3 separate regions of the Homo sapiens genome follow, and all the other regions are linked to region 1. The links come from fine-mapping of genetic effects on gene expression. A gene starts in region 1. Each other region holds a variant in brackets. All regions are shown on one strand. Distances are between the middles of the regions. Region 1 holds the start of VIM (vimentin). Region 2 overlaps CUBN (cubilin). Region 3 overlaps CUBN (cubilin).

The links. PIP is the estimated chance that this variant, and not a neighbour inherited with it, causes the effect.
Region 2: its variant is fine-mapped to the expression of VIM in unexposed skin (GTEx, PIP 0.98).
Region 3: its variant is fine-mapped to the expression of VIM in whole blood (INTERVAL, PIP 0.99).

The regions. Positions count from the first base shown.
Region 1 is chr10:17,226,633-17,229,305 of GRCh38, reverse strand. VIM (vimentin) reads right to left here and starts at 1,065. Exons shown (of 10, transcript NM_003380.5): 1 at 782-1,065; 2 at 1-30. All of the region lies in intron 1 of VIM-AS1 (VIM antisense RNA 1), which reads left to right. RefSeq lists a silencer at 2,372-2,586.
Region 2 is chr10:17,124,078-17,126,577 of GRCh38, reverse strand. The region is part of intron 4 of CUBN (cubilin); the gene reads left to right. Among named protein-coding and RNA genes, the nearest start is that of CUBN, 4.5 kb to the left of the region's middle. The variant G/A (reference allele first, on the strand shown) is at 1,436.
Region 3 is chr10:16,941,861-16,944,360 of GRCh38, reverse strand. All of the region lies in intron 36 of CUBN (cubilin), which reads left to right. Among named protein-coding and RNA genes, the nearest start is that of RSU1, 130 kb to the right of the region's middle. The variant T/CTTCCT (reference allele first, on the strand shown) is at 1,498.

The DNA of each region.
Region 1 (2,673 bases):
CGGGGACCTCGGAGCGAGAGTGGCAGAGGACTGGACCCCGCCGAGGGCGCTGTTTTTATAACCCCGTTAGGAAAGAGGGTCCCCTCCCACTGCCATCCCAGCCGCGGAGCGCGCCAGCCAATAGGGACCTAGCGAGAAGCGGGGAGGGTGGGCGGGTGGGGTGGGGGCGCCCTCGAGCCTTCCTGCTCCGGGGCCTGGGACTGGGCATGGTCCCGTTACTTCAGCGCTGGGCTGGGACTTTTGGGGGCTTTCCGGATGATAGTCTGAGCTGGGCTCACCCTGGGGTGCTGAAAAAGGCGGGGTCGCGCGGTGAGGGGGGGGTCCGCCTGGGACTGAACCAGAGGGGTCCGGTGGCACCACGCCAAAGGGGCGTGGGAGGAGGTGCGCGGCGGTCTCGGGGCTGCGGTCAGGCGGGGAGACCCGCGGGCAAAGGAGCGGGAAGAGGAAAGAGTAAGGAATCCCTCAGATCTGAAGTCGCGGAGAAAGAAACAAAGAGCGCCTGAGATTGGAACGCGGGGTGGGGGCGCGCACAGCGCAGGAACGCAGGGCTCAGGCCTCGCCGCAGCCTCGCGCGCCGCCCGCTTGGAAAGGGGGGCTGCTCCGGCCCGCGCCTCTGTCCATCGACTTGCCTTGGCGGAGAGATGTTGGGGGGAGGGGAGGTTCTGTCGAGGGACCTAACGGGCTCAGTCCAGCTTCGGACGGCGGGAGTTGCGAGACGGCGGTGGCAGAGGAAAGCCCGAGGGAGAGGGGTGGGGTCGCTTAGTCACCGGCGGTGACTCACCGCGCCCTGCTGTCCCGCCGATTGAGGGCTCCTAGCGGTTTAGGGGAAACCGTTAGACCAGATTGATTCAAGTCTCAGCGGGCTCCGCGCGCGCTGCTAGTTCTCAGTGCTACCAACTTACAGCTGGGCCATCGCCTTGCTGTGTGCGGTCGGGCCCTGTGGGGGACAAGAGCGCCCCTAAGTTTTTAATAACTCGCTAAAGCCTGTCTTTGCTCGAATGTGCGGACTTTTTGTTAGCAAGAAACTTCTGCAGCCTTTGGAGAGGCGCCATACGTGGGCCTCCCAGATCACGATTGCACCGGGAAGGTTTTTCTTGCAGAGTCCCCGCCCCCGTCCCTCTGGTCTCCTCTCGCTCTTCCCCCTCCCCCCATGAAACCACACCCAACTTTTTAAACAAGATCTGAAAATTCTGGGTGAAAGAGGAAACTCGACGTCCGTAGTTTCAAAATAGAACTCAGTGATCAGTGGTTTTTACCCTGGTGGAAGTCATTAAAGGTATAATATGAGCCAGTTAAAGAATTAATTAGGTGTTGCTTAAAAACCCCAATTTGATTAATGAGTTCAAATGAAAGGCAATTATGTAACACAAATGACAGAATCTTTGGCGGCAATAGATTTATGTGTTAATTTTAGGACAGCAATGCACAGTACAGGGTTCACGGTGATTTGTCTGGGAAATGCCATAGGTCCTGTTTTCCAAAAGAATTCGTGCAATTGACCTTGGGGTGAGGGGGATAAAACTGTCTACGCAGCAAAAAACTTCGTGTCCAAGACATGGAGGGAGTGTTCAGATTCGGTCACCTTAACCTTTCTAGGGAAATCACTCAATTCAAGGGCTGTTGTTTCAATATTAGTAACGAGCAGAGCTGAGTACTTACCCGCCAAGGGAGATAAAAGGAGACTATGTAAATCAGTCTTCTCGTGATTTAGTAGCAATTGAAAAGGCACAGGTTTTTTTGAGTATTTAGATTTATGGTGTACTGAAAGGATTAACTGCAGAACCACTGTAAAATTGATTCTGCAGTGGATAGGAGAAAAAAAAGTATTTCTCTCTTTTTTTTTGGTGGCGGCAGGGGGTACTGCAGGTTACTTGGTATTTAAGAAACATAATTTAGAGGTAAATGAAGAGCGTATTCTGACTTCTTTGGACAAGCCTCTTTTAGGCAATATTTTGTTTACCTTATCCCAGTTCGTTCTTGCAAATGGTGCTTGCCAAGGTGGAATTACAGGACTCTCTACTGCCCAGCTCGCCTGCTGGGGCTTTCTTTTATTCTCTCTTTCACTGGGAGGCTGCAGGTCATTCCCCAAGAGCATTCCTGGGGCTGGGTGCCCTGGAGGACAAGCCTATGCTCTGAGTTACATCTTGCTTTCTGAGAGCCCTTTATTCAAGCCACTGCTCAGCAAATGCCACCATTGTGAGTGTGCCTGGAACCCTTAGAATGAGAAAAGTGATCTCCCTATGGGAGGAAGAGAGTGTGGAACTCACTTCTACGTGCAGTGCCGATCCCAGGGCAATGCGACGCTTGCTGACTGACTCACTATGGAAAAGGAGGACAAGGCATTGGCGAGGTGTGGCACTGTGCCCTGCTGGTGCCCATAGCCGATTCCTCAGGGCTGCGGTGATGTCTCCTGGAATGGGCACTGGTCCTCTTCATCATCTCAGGGATAGGTAGCTCCTCCTTCCAACCTGTCCCCATTCTGAAGTCTCTGGGCTGTGATAGGCTGCTCTCTTGTCACAGACATATGTTTGTTTGATGCATATAGAATGTATAAAAGTGTAGGTGTTCTGTAGTCCCAGCACTTTGGGAGGCCAAAGCAGGAGGATTGCTTGAGATCAGGAGTTTGAGACCAGCTTAGGCAACATATATATATGAAACCAAAAAAAGCCAGGC
Region 2 (2,500 bases), 100 kb after region 1:
ACAGATGAAATGACAAGGCTGAGGTCTCCGAGCCTGTTAGGGCTTCTGACCCTGAGTTTGCAGCCCACAGCCCACATCCTTTACCATCACCCTTTAGCTGTGTGTGCTGTGCTTGGTCAGCTAGTGATCTCCCAACTTGCTGATTCTCCCATCAGGGACTGGGGCTCGGAAAGCAAGCATCCTCTCTGACGCTAAGCTCGGAAGTCTAGGTGTATCACAAAATAGTCCGAATTTTCTTAAAATGACATTTGCTGGTAATTAAACTTGAACAGTTTCTTACAGAAAACATTGTATAACTGTACTACATGCTTGTAGACTGATCTATGTAAACTTAGGCTTCTTACCCCTTTTGTAGGAAGCTGACCTTTTAAAGACTTTCATGGAAGCTGTAACCTTCTATGCAGAGAAATGTACAGAATCTCTTCATGTTTAAAATTTTGCATAAAAATCTGGGGATTCCAGTGTAAGAATTTCTGCAAAAATATTCTTCATCTGTTTTGCTCATGCTTCAAGCATTTTCCTCTACTTTTAAGTTTGATCTGTCCCACTGTGAAGGACAGATACAAAAAAAAGGACTCATGCAGATTGAGGCAGGTCCCACCATTCTGGCAAGGATTGCTGCTGCAAACCTTTTTGTCATTTGATGATCAAGTTCGTGTATTCCTTTTCTCCACTTAGATAATACATTGACCCCTCAGCTGTCATTTTTAAGAGAGTAGTTAAGCGAAAGAAAATGAGTAAAGAATAGTGCTGTGGACCGTGACACTGCACTCAAGTTTTGTCTCCTGGAGGGCTTCATTATATTCGCTCAGCCAGTCCTCCTACCCTCATCCCTCAGGAGGAATGTTGAATGATTTTCAAATGTGAATGCTTTGTGCCTTTGGATAGGGCAAATGCTCTCTGGCCACCACAGTCCCCACCACTCCCTATTGTCTTCCTCCTGACTCCTGATTTCATTTTCTACTAGGCCCCTGTAGGCTTTTAAGATTTTAGTCCCCAGACAGTGTTGCTTTTGTCTGACAGAAAACCTTTGAATGAGTTTGTGGTTAATGTTTTAAAGAGCATTCTATGATGGACAGAGCCAATTGTTGTGCTAGCACAAAGAGAAAAATAGAATAATGGAATAAAACAGGGTTCATAAAGAGACCCCCAGACGTGTGGTCATCTAATTTATGACCAAAGTGGAGAAGGAATGTGCTTTGCAGAAAATGGTATTGAGTCAGTTGGCTATCCTCTGGCTTTCTATTTCATCCATAAAATGAAGGAAACAGACGTAATTTTTTTTTATGAGTCACTGTATATAGTATGTTGTATTTGTATGTGTGTGTGTATGTATGTGCATATATATAGACACATATATAATATATATGTATGTGTGTGCATACATATATATGAAATGTAATCAACAGTTTGCCCCTATTTTAACTTTTTAAAA[G/A]CAGAGAATTAGGTTGGGTACGGTGGCTCACGCCTGTAATCCCAGCACTTTAGGAGGCCGAGGCAGGTGGATCATGTGAGGTCGGGAGTTTGAGATCAGCCTGGTCAACATGGTGGAACCCTGTCTCTACTAAAAATAGGAAAATTAGCCAGGCGTAGTGGGACATTCCTGTAGTCCCAGCTACTGAGGAGGCTGAGGCATGAGAATCGCTTCAACCCAAGAGGTGGAGGTTGCAGTGAGCTGAGATCATACCACTGCACTCCAGCCTGGGTGACAGACCGAGGCTCCATCTCAAAAACAAACAAACAAACAAAACAACGATACCAACCAAAACCCAGACAATTGGACTATGAGTGAAATTCATAAAGTGGCCATCATTGCATAATCAAGTGTTCCCTCTAAAGAAGTTTTCTCTGGCTGGGCGCGGTGGCTCACACCTGTAATCCCAGCACTTTAGGAGGCTGAGGCGGGCGGATCACGAGGTCAGGAGATCGAGACCATCCTGGCTAACACGGTGAAACCCCGTCTCTACTAAAAATACAAAAAATTAGCTGGGCGTGGTGGCGGGCGCCTGTAGTCCCAGCTACTTAGGAGGCTGAGGCAGGAGAATGGCATGGACCCAGGAGGCAGCGCCTGCAGTGAGCGGAGATCGCGCCACTGCACTCCAGCCTGGGCGACAGAGCAAGACTCCGTCTCAAAAAAAAGAAAAAAAAATCAAAAAGAAAAGAAAAAAGAAAAAAGAAAAAAAAGAAGTTTTCTCTGCACCCAAAGGCAGTAAAAATCTTAACAAGATTCAAACTGGTAGCTGACATAGGGTCAGATTCCCCAGGTTATGTAGATGTAGATGTAGACAAAGGTAGGTCTGTTTGTGATCTGGGCTGAAAGCAGTCAGGTGAGCACCAGGGTGAAAGATATGTCTTAGCTGGCCACATTTCTAACAAAGGGACTTGGAGCAGGAGTTCAGTCACCTTAACCCATGGGAGGAGGGGCAGCAGCAGCAGATGATTATATTTCAAAGGCTCACCTCGAGGGACCAAAGATAAGAATCACCGGTAAAATAACCGG
Region 3 (2,500 bases), 280 kb after region 1:
GTAAGACATATATTTAACCATTTATTACCCATAATATGACCAAAAATGTGAATATGGTAAATTGTTTTCTTCTGCTTCTCAGAAAGCAGAAAGGGAAGAAAGGGAGATCATTTTCCTCAGAAGGTAAATTACATGCAGTTGTCTCTAAAATCTTTCTATTCAAAGTGCAGTGCAATCTTTCTGACCAGTTACTTCACCCCTGCGGTTTGGTGGGCAGGGAATTGACAGAAATTGTATTTTATACTTGCAGAGTGCTTTTAGAAAGTGATAGGTCTCAGTTCAAGAATCAGAATGAGATAATAAGAAACAGTGATTGTACTATTTTTGTTCCACATCCTACATTTACTAACAGATCTAAGCCAAAGGGTGTAGTTGCTTATAAAATGTACCAGCCTAAAGCAAAGACTTCCAAGCATAATAAAGCTTTTTTTATAGTTTAATTTAATCCTTCTAGGTATTTGCCTACCACCATGTCCAACGGAATGTCTTTTCTGCCATCTAGCACTGGATTGCAGTAGTCAAGTACTTAGAAAAGACCTTCACTTTGTAATCTTCTGGAGCATCGGACAGAATGCTAATGTGCATGTTGATCATCTAGGATCTTGCTGAAATTCACTTTCTCACTGAGTTGGTTGGTGGGGCCAGATTCCTTGTTTCAAACAAGCTCTCCGGTGATGCCGATGTTGCTGGATTATGCACTTTGCATAGAAAGATTTTAGAGGCAACTTCGTGTAATTTACGTTCTGAGGAAAATGATCTCCCTTTCTTCCCTTTCTGCTTTCTGAGAAGCAGAAGAAAACAATTTTGCGTATTTCACATTGTTGATCATATTATGAGTAATAAAATTGAGCCTGAATGTATACACAAAAGTTGGCAGCCATCCCAAAGATGGATTTAGACCAATTCCTTGCAAAATAAAAAAAAGATTGAAGATAGAAATATTGTGTTATAAATCATCAGATTGTCAAAGGAGACAAATATGTGGTTTGTTTTGTCTGATGTGGATATATCCTGATTTCAATTATCAGTTATAGCTTGCTGTGAAAATTCCATCTAGTCTAGTCCAGATGGTCTATACTGTAGTGACCCACCTTGGTGGGATTCTGAGAGCCACCAGCTTACCACCAGGCTTACTGATTTGGTTAGAGACCTACCAATGCTAGTATCTGGCTTGAGAGCTAGGTTAGAGCAGAGCTGACCAGTTACTTCACCCCTGTGGTCTGGTAGGCAGGGAGTGACCAGAGATGTGCCTGGTATATTGATTAGTGGTAGGGCTTGAGGTGGTCAGAGCCTCCAGGCTGGTTATCTCTAACTATTCTCCTCCATTAGCTGAGATAGAGCCCCAGGGGAGCACTATACTTAGCATAAAGTAAAATCTTGCCATGGATAATGTTGAGCATTAACAGAAAGATACACATGACAGAGAAGTACATTTTTCCTTTCCTTTCCCCTTCCCCTTCCCCTTGCCTTCCGTTCCCCTCCCTTCCCTTCCCTTCC[T/CTTCCT]TTCCCTTCCCCTTCCCCTTCCCCCTTCCCTTCCTTTTCCCTTCCCTTCCCTTCCTTTTCCCTTCCCTTCCCTTCCCTTTTTCCTTTACCCTTTCCCCTTTCCTGTTTGTTCATGCTTTCATTTCATTGGGGTATAAACCTAGAAGTGAAATTGCTGGTTCATATGATAATACTATGTTTAACTTTTTGAGGAACCACCAAACTTTTTTATAGGGATGGACTATTTTACATTCCCGTTAGTAATGCGTAAGAGTTCTAATTTCTCCATATCCTCATCAGCACTTCTTATTTTCTATTTTTAAATAATAGTCTTCCTGGTGGTTTGTAGTGTTATCTCTTTGTGGTTTTGATTTGCATTTCTCTAATGACTAATAATGTTTGAAAATCTTTTCATGTTTTTATTGGCCATTCATAAATCTTCTTTGGAGAAATGTGTATTCGGTTTGTTTTCCATTTTAATTGGGTTATTTGTTTTTAATTTTCGAGTTGCAGGAGTTATTTTATATTCAGGATACTACCTTGGTCATGTGTTTTTATTTTCTTTGGGTATATATTTAGGGGTGGAATTTCTGGGCATTAATTGGATGTACATTTAATTTTATGAGAAACTCCCAAATAATTATTCAAAGTGGCTATGTCAGTATGCAGTCCCACGAGGAATATATAAGACTTCAGTTGCTTTGCACGCTTGTCAACAATTGATCTTGTCAGCCTTTTAATTTTAGCCCTTATGATGGGTGTGGAATGATATCTGACTGTGGTATTTAAGTTGCATTGCTCTGATGACTAATCATGCAGAGTACTTTTCACATTCTTGGTAGCCATTTTCTTGTCTTCTTTTATGAATATCTGTTCAAGCCCTTTGTCCACTTTTAATTTGGTTGTTTTTTCATTATCTGTAGGAATTCCTTTTATATTTCAACTTTGAGTCCCTTGCTAGATAAATGCTTTACGATTATCTCCCATTTCCCCACCCCGGTCTGTAACTTGCCTTTTCATTTTT